Homo sapiens: one gene and its partners. The protein of the gene in region 1 purifies or fractionates together with the protein of each later gene. This does not show direct contact. Each region holds a gene or a part of one and is shown in the gene's direction. Other genes may lie near its edges.

Region 1 (3,500 bases):
TGTTTAAATCTGCAATTATTATTTAGCCCAATGTCTCATGGATTTAATTTATAACATGGAATGAACCAGTAGTATAAGAGTTATATTTATTCTAAAAACTGAGAGTGAATTTCAAAATGATAATTCAGTATTTATAAAGTTATGATGGTTAAATTATTTTATTATGCTCACTCCAAATTGCTATGGAATTTTATTACATAAGGGTATGCGTATAAGAAAGTGGGTGTTTTTCCTGAAATATAATATTTTTCCATTTGAAACTCTTCCTAAAGGACTCAAAAACTTTAGCAGCAAAGGAAAAAGAGGTTAAAAAGATAACAGATGGACTGCATGCCCTTCAAGAAGCAAGTAATAAAGATGCTGAAGCTCTGGCAGCTGCACAGCAGCACTTCAATGCTGTTTCCGCTGGCCTGTCCAGTAATGAAGATGGAGCAGAAGCAACTCTTGCTGGTCAAATGATGGCCTGTAAAAATGATATAAGTAAAGCTCAGACAGAAGCCAAACAGGTAAATAGAGACATTAGCACTATGTGATTGCTTTTTTTTCCAAGAAGTTTCTTTTCATGTTATGCTTTGGCAATTGTTACATAATGTTGAAAATAATCAGTCTCAAGGAACTTGTTTGTTTACTTTATTCTGCAACTCTAATGCCTAATGCAGCGAAATTCAAATATGTTGATTGCTAAATATTGGTGATGTTAATTTGTGAAGATGCTGTACTACATAAATTATCTTAATTCGGTATGTAAGTGCAATAAATGCTTTGTTCTGTTTGCAGCATTGTGTGGAATTTTCGAGATTAATGCATTTATTCTTGTCTCTTTTTGGCTATTTTTATTTTTTATTGATAACATAATGTTGAAGTCTTAAGCTTTAACAGGAAAACAGGATTGTCCTCCCCATTGCTTTGCCTGCCATACCTAGTTCTTAAAACCTTGTTTCTCAAACTTTACATTTTTTTAGGAAGTATCTCTACCTCACATGTAGCCACATTCTAGTCTGCTCTCCCTACTCTGATTTCATAATCTTAAAAGTCTTGTCAGTCTATTATAATGTTTCTCAGATTTTACATAGTAGTGCAACTTACAGTCCTATGAACATAAGAATTTTGCTAGCAGAAAAAATACATGTACACAGGCACATCATTGTTTTGTTTTTAATGGAAGACACAGATTTTAAAACATGTACACAAATGTGTGTGATTATGCGTTAATCCTCAGGTTTTTCTCTTTATATATTTGCAACTTTTTCATTCAGGCATGACAGATGATAGTCACAAATTTATAAGAACTCTCAATAGTAGAAAAGCTTTAAAGTACTCTACTCTCAGTTTGTCTATTATTTTATAAGGGAACTGGGAAAAATACATCATTATACAGTTTTGGAGGATACCCCCATCTAAAACCCCATCTAGGTTTTAGAATACTAGTTCATAGTTTTAAGAAGCAGTGTTCAAGTGTATAAATTCTTGAAGGCCTGACACATGTAATTTAAATAGTTCTAGCATTTAATTATCAGACTCAGCATTTAAGTTTCTCTGTCAGTTTAGCTTCTTTTCCTGTATAATCTTACGTCTTATTGCTCAATTCAGTTTCTTTACTGTTATTAGATAGCACTCACAAATATATACACATACAAATATGAACAACTAAGCGGAAAGGAAAAGAACGAGAGTTGTGATTTCTAGCGTTCTTTTTTTAATTACCAGCTACTGACAGTTATTCGATATAATCCTTCAATTTGAATATGTCATATTTTATTAAAAATACGGACTTAAATTTCAAATTCTTTTACATATTAATCATATATTAGTTTATACTTTGAGTAGTTTTTTGAGGAGAAAATACTGGGAAATGACTAATTTGTTGAAATACTAATCCAAGAGACCAAACAATTAAACTTTGAAGGTTAAGGTCTCTTAGTAAAACCAATCTGAATCTTCGGCCATTTAATTACTAGCACTGTCTGCCTCATACATCCTATGGTCTGTTGCATTTTTCTGCCACAGGCTCAGATGAAGTTGAAGCATGCTCAACAGGAATTAAAGAATAAACAAGCTGAAGTTAAGAAGATGGATAGTGGCTACAGGAAGGATCAAGAAGCTCTAGAAGCTGTAAAAAGACTTAAAGAAAAACTTGAAGCTGAAATGAAAAAGCTAAATTATGAAGGTTTGCCTTTAAAAACATGATAATCAGATCATGAGGAGGTAGTGATTTTTGATAAAAAGCTAATTTAAATAAAGAACGCAAGCAAGTAGGAAACATTTCTTAGCCTATTAACAAGCATTAGTATAAGAAGTGTTGTAAATATCGTCAAAAAATACCTAATTATAAAACAACTCTTGAATTTTTGAGAACTCAGTATTGAGAATTTCCTGCTTCAATCATTTGAAAGCTCAAAAATGTCATTTGTGTATTTCTACATTAGGCATTCAGTTTGTATGTTATTTTTTGGAATGAAAATTGTGTTATTTGCCGTTGGAAATAATGTCTGTTTGACAGTGGATAGAAATAGGAAGGTTCAGCATGCTTTTTTAATACTTACAGAAATTTGTATTTTTTGCATGCTTTGGAAATAGTGGTTGCTAATATTTTCCTTAAAACAGTAGAGTGAGCTTTTAAAACTTGGTTTTAATTTATTATGATTTATCCTTCAGAAAATAAAGAGGAAAGCCTTTTGGAAAAGCGCAGGCAGCTGTCTCGTGATATTGGTAGATTGAAAGAAACATATGAAGCTCTATTAGCCAGATTTCCCAATCTTCGATTTGCATACAAGTAAGAGACTTAAGCCTTGAATTTTAACATAGTAATAATCAAGACATTTTTATTTAAGCTGGAAGCAGTGTGAAAATTTTGTCGAAACCAAGATTTTTGTATGAAACTTGTTGTAAGCTGCTTTTCTTTCATTGGTATTTTTCCTTTAAACATTTGTTGAAATGTTTTAAATGTTGGCAGGGAAATTCTTGTGAAATTTAATGGCTAATGATGCCACTAATCTTAAAATGAGGGAAATTTAATCTCAGTTCAAAATGTCTTCAGAGTTACTGTATCATTAATGTTAAATATCCACATTTACATCTTATAATTTGTTTTGCTATGTGGGTTTTTTATGGAATATTTACAGTAATCATATGTATTATAGGGATTAGAACATCAGAGTTGTTCTTACTACATTGAAACATACTGAAAGATCTATTGTGATTTAAAAACAACAGCTGGCTAGTCATTTGGGACATTTTAAAATTTTTGGTTTGTTAAAACCATTTTGCTGATTCTACTTTCATTTCACTTTAATGTGTTGTCCAAAAGAGCTCCTGATGAGTAAAGTATAACTTTTTCTACTTTATTATCTAAGATTAATTTTTGTCAACTTTTGTATTTCAGGGATCCAGAGAAGAACTGGAATAGAAATTGTGTGAAAGGACTTGTGGCTTCTCTGATTAGTGTGAAAGACACTTCTGCAACCACAGCTTTAGAATTAGTGGCTGGAGAACGACTCTAC
Region 2 (2,212 bases), on another chromosome or scaffold:
TTGCATCCTGCTCTCAGGCTCTTTGCAGAGAAAATTAACAAGAATGAGCGGAAAGGGAAGGCTGAGATCACACTGCTGGTGCAGGGCCAGGAGCTCCCAGAGTTCTGGGAGGCACTGGGTGGGGAGCCCTCTGAGATCAAGAAGCACGTGCCTGAAGACTTCTGGCCGCCGCAGCCCAAGCTGTACAAGGTGAGCCCTGCTGCTGAGGCCCACCTTGGCCTCCCAAGTTCACCCACCGACTGGGGGAATGGACTACACACCGATGTAGTTGGCTTTGGGCTCCATCTCGACTTTGGTGGGGAGAGGGTGCCACCTTCTGGACAAGGAACAGTATGAGCAAAGGTCTGGAGGCTGCTTTTGAGAAGTAGCCTCACGGAGTCTTTCCAGGATGGTGGGGCCGTAGGGGAGACAGAAGCACCTAGTGCCAGGGCTGGGAACCTTGGCTCAATTATCTAGATTCTTGTGAACAGGAAAGGGACACGTTAATTAGAAATGGCATGAAGGGCCTGGAGAGGGCAGGCAGGGAAAACTCCATTTAAAAGCCCTTCTGAAAGGATATCCCTAAAAAGACCTTGAAGGGGAGGGGGAAACAGAAGCAGTCAGTGAGCCACGCTGCAGGGCAGGGCTGGTTCCAGAGCAGAGGGCTGTGTGGGTGAGGTTCCTGTCTCCAGATCCCTTCCCTGCCATGCTCATCCTTCCTGCCAGGTGGGCCTGGGCTTGGGCTACCTGGAGCTGCCACAGATCAACTACAAGCTCTCCGTGGAACATAAGCAGCGTCCCAAGGTGGAGCTGATGCCAAGAATGCGGCTGGTAAGAGATGCAGGAGGAGGGCGTGGGGCCAGATCCCTCCCCGTTGGCTGGGCTTTGACCTCCAGACTCCCGGTCCGCAGCTGCAGAGTCTGCTGGACACGCGCTGCGTGTACATTCTGGACTGTTGGTCCGACGTGTTCATCTGGCTCGGCCGCAAGTCCCCGCGCCTGGTGCGCGCTGCCGCCCTCAAGCTGGGTCAGGAGCTGTGCGGGATGCTGCACCGGCCACGCCATGCCACGGTCAGCCGCAGCCTCGAGGGCACCGAGGCGCAGGTGCGCTTGCAGCTTCGGAGGCCCCTCCCCAGGATCCTTCGCACCCTGACATGCCCTGACCCCTGTGGCTTCACTACCTCCCTACAGAGCTGGGCCCAAACCCACCTCCTCTTTGCTGACTCTGCCCAGGCCCCGCCCCCTCTGCAAGCTGCCCCTCCTATTCCTACCTCCGTGTCCGAGGCCCCGCCTCCCAAGCCCCGCCCTAGATCTCCCTTGGGTCCCGCCTCAAGCCTCGGGCTACTTCCTCCAACTCTAATCATGCCGCACCCCTCATGGTTAGTTGATGGCCTCCCTGGCAGGTGTTCAAGGCCAAGTTCAAGAATTGGGACGATGTGTTGACGGTGGACTACACACGCAATGCGGAGGCCGTGCTGCAGAGCCCGGGTCTCTCCGGGAAGGTGAAACGCGACGCCGAGAAGAAAGACCAGATGAAGGCTGACCTCACTGCGCTTTTCCTGCCGCGGCAGCCGCCCATGTCGCTGGCCGAGGTGGGGGCAGGGCCGGGACCGGGGCGCGGGGGGGGGGGTGGGGGGCAGGCCGAGGGCGGGGCCTATGCGCAGAGCGCGCTCAGACCTGCCGCGGGGCGGGTCCCTCTCACCTGCAGGCGGAGCAGCTGATGGAGGAGTGGAACGAAGACCTAGACGGCATGGAGGGTTTCGTGCTGGAGGGCAAGAAGTTTGCGCGGCTGCCGGAAGAGGAGTTTGGCCACTTCTACACGCAGGACTGCTACGTCTTCCTCTGCAGGTACCACCTCAGCACTCCCTTCCCCAAGTCCCTCCCCTGGTGCTGGGGGCTCGAGCCCCTGCTCACAACCTTCCAACCCGGCAGGTACTGGGTGCCTGTGGAGTACGAGGAGGAGGAAAAGAAGGAAGACAAGGAGGAGAAGGCCGAGGGCAAAGAAGGCGAGGAAGCAACCGCTGAGGCAGAGGAGAAGCAGCCAGAGGAGGACTTCCAGTGCATCGTGTACTTCTGGCAGGGCCGTGAAGCCTCCAATATGGGCTGGCTCACCTTCACCTTCAGCCTGCAAAAGAAGTTCGAGAGCCTCTTCCCTGGGAAGCTGGAGGTGTGCCTGGCAGCCCCGCGAGCCCGAGGCCAGGCGGAGGGGTGTGGTGGGGCTCAGACCCAGCGAA
Region 3 (3,500 bases), on another chromosome or scaffold:
TAAAGCTCACCTTCATAAATGCCAAAGGATTGGTTCAATTTTTTTGTTTGTTTAATATTATGGACATTTAAGGAAAAGGATCAAGAGCTCCAGTGTCTGGACAAAACCCAAAGGAATAAAATGTACCTGTTAGAGGATGGCCTAAATTTTGGAAAAGCCAAGAGGCAGTAGGAGGGCGTTCCCAGTAGAAATTGGCTTATGGCAGTAGGAACACAAGACACTAGCACATTTAGATCACTTGTGAAATTATTTGAAAAGTTGCACAATTCTTGTGAGTGGGCCATCTTGTCTTACACTTGCAGAGGGGAAACATGCAAAGGATGTGAATTTAATCTAACTTATTTAACAATTGCATCTTCATAAGGTGATAGTTTTGTGGCATTTTGGTAAATCTTTTAAAACTAAATGTTTTGGGTCCCTTGTCCCCCCAGATGAAAAAGAGAGGTTTGACCCTACTCAGTTTCAAGACTGTATTATTCAAGGCTTAACTGAAACCGGTACTGATTTGGAAGCAGTAGCTAAGTTTCTTGATGCTTCTGGAGCAAAACTTGATTACCGTCGATATGCAGAAACACTCTTTGACATTCTGGTGGCTGGTGGAATGCTGGGTAAGTGTCTGTGGTTTGTGGGCTTAATAATTTAGAAAGGTATAATATATGGAGATTATGGAGAGTCTAGAATATGAACTATTTGGCAAACTTGTTAAAATGGAGTGATTTTTTTGGTTTTGTTGTATTTTGGTTTTATCCAACTTTAGCCCCAGGTGGTACACTGGCAGATGACATGATGCGTACAGATGTCTGCGTGTTTGCAGCCCAAGAAGATCTAGAGACCATGCAAGCATTTGCTCAGGTAAATGAAACTTTACATAATTGTTTTCAGTTGGCTACTATCCATGTGGTATATTTGAGGAATATTCTACTTTTAAGAGTTGTGGTTAGAAAGTTGAAGGAATTTGATTTTAAATTTTAGGGATACTGTTCTTGGTGCAACGGGATGAATTAGAAACTTAAGGTGTGTTAAGGCGAACAAAATAGGGAAAAATGAAATTAACTCTTCTGTTCCTATTTGTCCTGAAATTACTCAATTTTTAAGAAAAATGTCAAGCTGGAAAAGTCAGTTTCGTATTGTGATTTCTCTAGTTTATCTGCATACATTTATTTTTAAAGTTAAATGAGTTGTGAGCTGATTAGCTTGTTAATCAAGATCTCATTGGAAAGTTTCATACGTAGTTATGTTTGTGTTACTGTAAGCAAAGAATTAAAGTACATCTAACCTGGACATTCTTATGTGTCACTAGGAATTCTTCTCAAGCTGGTTTAAGCAGCTCATAAACTTACATCGAGTGAAAGGTTTACTACTTTGCTATTCTAGAAATATATGAAGTTACTGAATTCATTTAATGTTCTTCATAGGTTTTTAACAAGTTAATCAGGCGCTACAAATACCTGGAGAAAGGTTTTGAAGATGAAGTAAAAAAGGTATGAGTAATAATGTACTTTGTGGAAAAGAAAAAAATAGGGTTAGAAAGAGGAATGTTAAATCCTAATTCCGCCACAGATTTGGAGTAATTTTGCTTGTTTGTTTGGGTTGTTTTTTGAGACAGAGCCTCACTCTGTGTCCCAGGCTGGGGGTGCAGTGGCTCAGTCTCAGCTCACTGCAGCCTTTGCCTCCCGGGTTCAAGCGATTCTCGTGCCTCAGCCTCCCGAGTAGCTGGGATTACAGGCATGTGCCACCATGCCCAGCTAATTTTCTGTTTTTAGTAGAGACAGGGTTTCACCATGTTGGCTAGGCTGGCCTTGAACTCCTGGCCTCAAGTGATCTGCCCTCGGCCTCCCAAAGTGCTGGGGTTATAGGTGTGAGCCAACACGCCTGGCCCAATATTGCATATAGATGCCCAGAAAACTTGATATGTTTATCAAGCACCAGGCACTGTTCTAATGATACTAATTCACTCAATGTTTATAAAAACCCTGTGAGGCAAGTTTTATTATCCACATTTTACATGTGAGGTGCAGAGGTTAAGTAACTTGCCCGAGATCATTCAGCTAATGAGTATTGTAACTTAGATGTAAACTTGGATGGTTAGATCCCAGAGCCCACGTATTGAACAGGTAGCCAGTATAACATGCTTTACTGCTTCTCTTATTGTAATGCAGTTGCTGTTTTAACCCTTAATTGTTTTACTTTTTACAGCTGCTGCTGTTCTTGAAGGGTTTTTCAGAGTCGGAGAGGAACAAGCTAGCTATGTTGACTGGTGTTCTTCTGGCTAATGGAACACTTAATGCATCCATTCTTAATAGCCTTTATAATGAAAATTTGGTTAAAGAAGGTAATCAGCCTTAAAGGATGGTCTTCAGTTGACTCAGAGTGGGGTGGATAAGAGCATGGTTTACTGTTCATAGATGTGACTTCTGTGAAAGTCTTCGTTTATTAACCAGCCTTAAATTTAATAAGTTCAGTCTAATTCACTAGACATTTAATGAATACCTTTGGCATCCAGGTTTAATGGCTTTCTTTAGGCATACAACAGATACCCAGATTTAGACAAAATGTTGTTATATGTAATAAAAATAAAATGAGAAATGCTGTGGGAACCCCAGAAGAGATTAATACCAATTGGGAGACTTGGAGAAGATGACGTTTGGGGAAAATGTCAAGCTGGAAGGGAAAATCAGTTCCCTGTTTGGCTCCAATTGTCGGATTATTCTCTACAGTAATTTTTTTGAAGCTTTTTTTTTTTTAAAAAACTGCTTGCAGTAGTGAGTATTTAAGTTACCTTACTGTAATTCTCACAACAGTCTTGTCAAGTGTAGAGACTGTTGCCCTCAATTTATACTTTGGAAAACACTTTAAGTAACTTGGCCAAGAATATACAATTTGCAAGTGGTAGACTAGGGAGATTGGAGAAGTGATAAACTGTGGCCCAGGAAAGTTCAGGGTTAAGTTTGTGAGGAAAGTCAGTAATCCCATGTGATTGAACTATGAAGGGAAGGATATAGGGGGACACAGTGATTGAAACCAGGGAAGGTACTTCTGTTAATTAAGCTATTTTCTTTTACAGGAGTTTCAGCAGCTTTTGCTGTGAAGCTCTTTAAATCATGGATAAATGAAAAAGATATCAATGCAGTAGCTGCAAGTCTTCGGAAAGTCAGCATGGATAACAGACTGATGGTTGGTAACTTTTTTTCATTCTTCCCATTCTTGCCAAGGATGTAAATGAGAGAAATTTCTCATTTTTAAGACTGTGAAAAGAAAGTGTTTTTCTTAATCTGATTTAAAGAAAGTTTAACCAGATAAATTCTTCTTTTAGGAACTCTTTCCTGCCAATAAGCAAAGTGTTGAACACTTCACAAAATATTTTACTGAGGCAGGCTTGAAAGAGCTTTCAGAATATGTTCGGAATCAGCAAACCATCGGAGCTCGTAAGGAGCTCCAGAAAGAACTTCAAGAACAGATGTCCCGTGGTGATCCATTTAAGGATGTAAGTTTTTGTTTAA
Region 4 (3,500 bases), on another chromosome or scaffold:
AACCTGCTACTGTTGTTAGAGCTAGGAAAATCCTTTTCCTGGAATGTTAGTGGCTTAAGGAACCATGATTATAGTGTTGTAGTCTTTAAAATGTGTTTGCTTTGAGATTTTCCCCTTAAATGGTGGGTATTTTCCTAATGAGAAACTGCCTTTGATTCTTAAAGGAGAAAGTTCTGATTTTTCATTCCTTTCTGAATTGAGACATTTCTTCCCCAAGAGGGAGGGGAATTCTGGGTACTGTGGTTCATGCCTGTAATCCCAGCACTTTGGGAGGCTGAGGTGGGTGGATCACTCGAGGTCAGGAGTTCGAGACCATCCTGGCCAACGTGATGAAACCTCGTATGTACTTAAAAAACAAAACAACACAAAAAACACAAAATTAGCCAGGCGTGGTGGCACATGCCTGTAATCGCAGTTACTGGGGAGGCTGAGGCAGGAGACTCGCTCGAACCCTGGGAGGTGGAGGTTGCAGTGAGCCAAGATCACGCCACTGCACTCTATCCTGGGTGACAGAGTGAGATCTTGTCTAAAAAAAAAAAAAAGCGGCCAGGAGTGGTGGCTAACGCCTGTAATTCCAGCACTTTCAGAGGCTGACGGGGGCAGAGCATGAGGTCAGGAGATCGAGACCATCCTGGCCAACATGGTGAAACCGTGTCTCTACTAAAATACAAAAAGTTGGCGGGGCATGGTGGTGTGCACCTGTAATCCCAGCTACTAGGGAGGCTGAGGCAGGGGAGTCGCTCGAACCTGGAGGCAGAGATTGCAGTGAGCCGAGATGAGGCCACTGCACTCCAGCCTGGCGATGGAATGGACTCTGTCTCAAAAAAAAAAAGAGGGAGGGGAAGAAAGGGGGTACCCAGGTCTGCAGGGCAGGTGGCCAGACTGACTGGGTTCACTGGGGCCTTCCTGAGCTGGGAGAGAATGGGCTGGGAACAAGACCATGAGGCCCACTAGAGTGAGTATTTTAGTAAATGCCAATGGCTGTTGCCTCCTGAACGCCCTCCCCACTTCCCTTGGGCCTGTTTGTCTGAGGCCCGATTTGTCCCCTAGGTACCTCATGGCAGGGCCAGGTTCCAGCAGTGAGGAGGATGAGGCCTCTCACAGCGGTGGCAGCGGAGATGAAGCCCCCAAGCTTCCTCAGAAGGTCTGATGCCCCCTGTCCAGTGGGGGAGGGTGTAGTGGGAGGATGACATGAGTCCGCTGTGGCACCCCAAACTTCCCACTCTTGCCTCTTGCAGGTACCCCCCCAACACACCCACACTGTTCCTGCCCTCCTCACCCACCCACTCTCCCTCCTTAGCAACCCCAGACCAAAACCAAGCCCACTCAGGCAGCTGGACCCAGCTCACCCCAGAAGCCCCCAACCCCTGAAGAGACCAAAGCAGCCTCACCAGTGCTCCAGGAAGATATAGACATTGAGGGGGTACAGTCAGGTCAGACTCTGAGGGAGGAGGGGCTGGGGCCTGGGCTCCTGAGTCTGAGGGAGGAGGGCCTGCGGCCTGGGCTCCTGAGTCTGAGGGAGGAGGGGCTGGGGCCTGGACTCCTGAGTCTGAGGGAAGAGAGCCTGGGGACCTGGACTCCTGGGTCTGAGGGATGAGGGGCTGGGGGCCTGGACTCCTGGGTCTGAGGGAGGAGGGGCTGGGGGCCTGGGCTTCTGGGTCTGAGGGAGGAGGGGCTGGGGGCTGGACTCCTGTGTCTGAGGGAGGAAGGGCTGAGTCCTGGACTCCTGGGTCTGAGGGAGGAGGGGCTGGGGCCTGGACTCCTGGATCAGAGGGAGGAGGGGCTGGGGGCCCAGACGACTGGATCTGGAGGGCAGTTGAGGCTGGGGGCATGAGATGCCTGGGTCTGTGCCATACTGGGAGAGCTGCCAGTCTTCCCAGGAGACAAGGCAGCCTTGCATTGACTGAGCTTCTACTTGCAGAAGGACAGGACAATGGGGCGGAAGATTCTGGGGACACAGAGGATGAGCTGAGGAGGTAGGGCTGGGGCTGGGGGTTGGGGTGTCCCTGGCCTTGGGTGTAGGGGAGGCTGCTCTGCATGCTCACTCTCTACTCCTCTTGGCACCCCCAGGGTGGCAGAGCAGAAGGAACACAGACTGCCCCCTGGCCAGGAGGAGAATGGGGAAGACCCGTATGCAGGCTCCACGGATGAGAACACGGACAGTGAGGAACACCAGGAGCCTCCTGATCTGCCAGTCCCTGAGCTCCCAGGTGGGAAATCCCCCCATCCCTCCTGAAGTGGCATTTTCTCTTCTCAGTTCTCAGCTGGGACTTGCCCTGGCCAGCCCTGGGGTCACTGCTGCCCCCGTGTCTTGCCTCCCCTCTCCTTCCTCAACCCACTCCCTGCCTCAGCACCTTCAGGTTCTGCCAGGCTTGTTCCTTTCCTTTCAGCATCCTCTCTGTGACTTGCCTTTTTCTCCCCTCCAGATTTCTTGTTCTGACCACTCCCCTCGCAGCCATGTGCCAGGTGTGACCTCCTTTTTTTCACGTCAGGGGTGAGGGCCCCACCCTCATGCTAGTGCTTCACTTGCTCAGGTGCCGTTCTGTTGGTCTGGGGTGAAGCCGGGCACACCAGGTGACAGGGGCACTGCTCTCTGTCAGGCCCTGGGTGGGTGCACACCAGTGTCTGCTTTAACATCAGCCATCACTCTGGACGTGGATGCTGTCTGCACACATTGTGTGTTTGCATTTCCAGTGTAAAAGAATAAGAACAAAAGGAAATGGGGAAACTCTGCAGGGAGTTGTGGGATGAGGGGCAGGGAGGCAGAGCTTCTTCGAGAATGAAGGGAGCAGAGGAAAGACAGTCACGGGCTGTGCAGAGGTGTGGTTCTGGGGCTTCCAGAAGAGCCGTTTCCACCCAGTTCCTCGTGGGTGATGGGCAGGAAGATGCTTTGATTCTCCCAAGCCCCTAAAGTGGCATCAGCAAATTGATGGCCTAGAGAGTCACCTTAAAATGGAAAGAAGGAGCCACCCCAAAGGTCAGAACAAGAAAGGCACTGGTTGGAAAGGAGAGCAAAGGTGAAGAAGTGGCAGATACTGACGTTTTCAGCCTGGACTAAGCTCATTAAGTGGCTCCAGGCAGGCCAGGCGTGGTGGCTCACCCCGTACTTTGAGAGGCCGAGGTGGGAGGACTGCTTGAGTCCAAGAGTTCAAGACCAGCCTGGGCAACATAGTGAGACCCCCCCCGACCCCCGCCTTTACAAAACATTTTAAAAATTAGCCGAGCGTGGTGGTGTGCTACTCAGTAGTCCTGGCTACTCAGGAGGCTGAGGTGGGAGGATTGCTTGAGCCCAAGAGTTTGAGACCAGCCTGAGCAACATGTCAATACCCCGTCTCTCTACAAAAAGTTTAAAAATTAGTCTGGCTTGGTGGCATGCACCTGTAGTCCCAGCTACTGGGGAGGCTGAGATGGGAGAATCACTTGAGCCCAGGAGGCAGAGGTTGCAGTGAGGCAAGATCACGCCACTGCACTCCAGCCTGGGCGACAGAGTGAGTCCTTGT

Evidence for each region. Proteins that work in one complex are often made in the same cells at the same time.
Region 2: the proteins of SMC2 (region 1) and FLII fractionate together in Homo sapiens (co-fractionation; one large-scale study listed by BioGRID). This does not show direct contact.
Region 3: the proteins of SMC2 (region 1) and BZW1 fractionate together in Homo sapiens (co-fractionation; one large-scale study listed by BioGRID). This does not show direct contact.
Region 4: the proteins of SMC2 (region 1) and XRCC1 fractionate together in Homo sapiens (co-fractionation; one large-scale study listed by BioGRID). This does not show direct contact.

Annotation. Positions count from the first base shown.
Region 1 is NC_000009.12:104,111,309-104,114,808, forward strand, and holds part of SMC2 (structural maintenance of chromosomes protein 2), read left to right. Parts: intron 1-272; coding exon 273-506; intron 507-2,007; coding exon 2,008-2,167; intron 2,168-2,655; coding exon 2,656-2,773; intron 2,774-3,382; coding exon 3,383-3,500. UniProt on the Homo sapiens protein: Central component of the condensin complex, a complex required for conversion of interphase chromatin into mitotic-like condense chromosomes.
Region 2 is NC_000017.11:18,246,527-18,248,738, reverse strand, and holds part of FLII (protein flightless-1 homolog), read left to right. Parts: intron 1-17; coding exon 18-189; intron 190-705; coding exon 706-810; intron 811-890; coding exon 891-1,082; intron 1,083-1,381; coding exon 1,382-1,570; intron 1,571-1,686; coding exon 1,687-1,826; intron 1,827-1,910; coding exon 1,911-2,145; intron 2,146-2,212. UniProt on the Homo sapiens protein: Is a regulator of actin polymerization, required for proper myofibril organization and regulation of the length of sarcomeric thin filaments. It also plays a role in the assembly of cardiomyocyte cell adhesion complexes.
Region 3 is NC_000002.12:200,814,910-200,818,409, forward strand, and holds part of BZW1 (eIF5-mimic protein 2), read left to right. Parts: intron 1-431; coding exon 432-608; coding exon of another isoform or gene 609-614; intron 615-757; coding exon 758-852; intron 853-1,415; coding exon 1,416-1,481; intron 1,482-2,196; coding exon 2,197-2,332; intron 2,333-3,064; coding exon 3,065-3,174; intron 3,175-3,313; coding exon 3,314-3,484; intron 3,485-3,500. UniProt on the Homo sapiens protein: Translation initiation regulator which represses repeat-associated non-AUG (RAN) initiated translation probably by acting as a competitive inhibitor of eukaryotic translation initiation factor 5 (EIF5) function.
Region 4 is NC_000019.10:43,544,528-43,548,027, reverse strand, and holds part of XRCC1 (DNA repair protein XRCC1), read left to right. Parts: intron 1-1,050; coding exon 1,051-1,144; intron 1,145-1,300; coding exon 1,301-1,433; intron 1,434-1,921; coding exon 1,922-1,976; intron 1,977-2,070; coding exon 2,071-2,210; intron 2,211-3,500. UniProt on the Homo sapiens protein: Scaffold protein involved in DNA single-strand break repair by mediating the assembly of DNA break repair protein complexes. Negatively regulates ADP-ribosyltransferase activity of PARP1 during base-excision repair in order to prevent excessive PARP1 activity.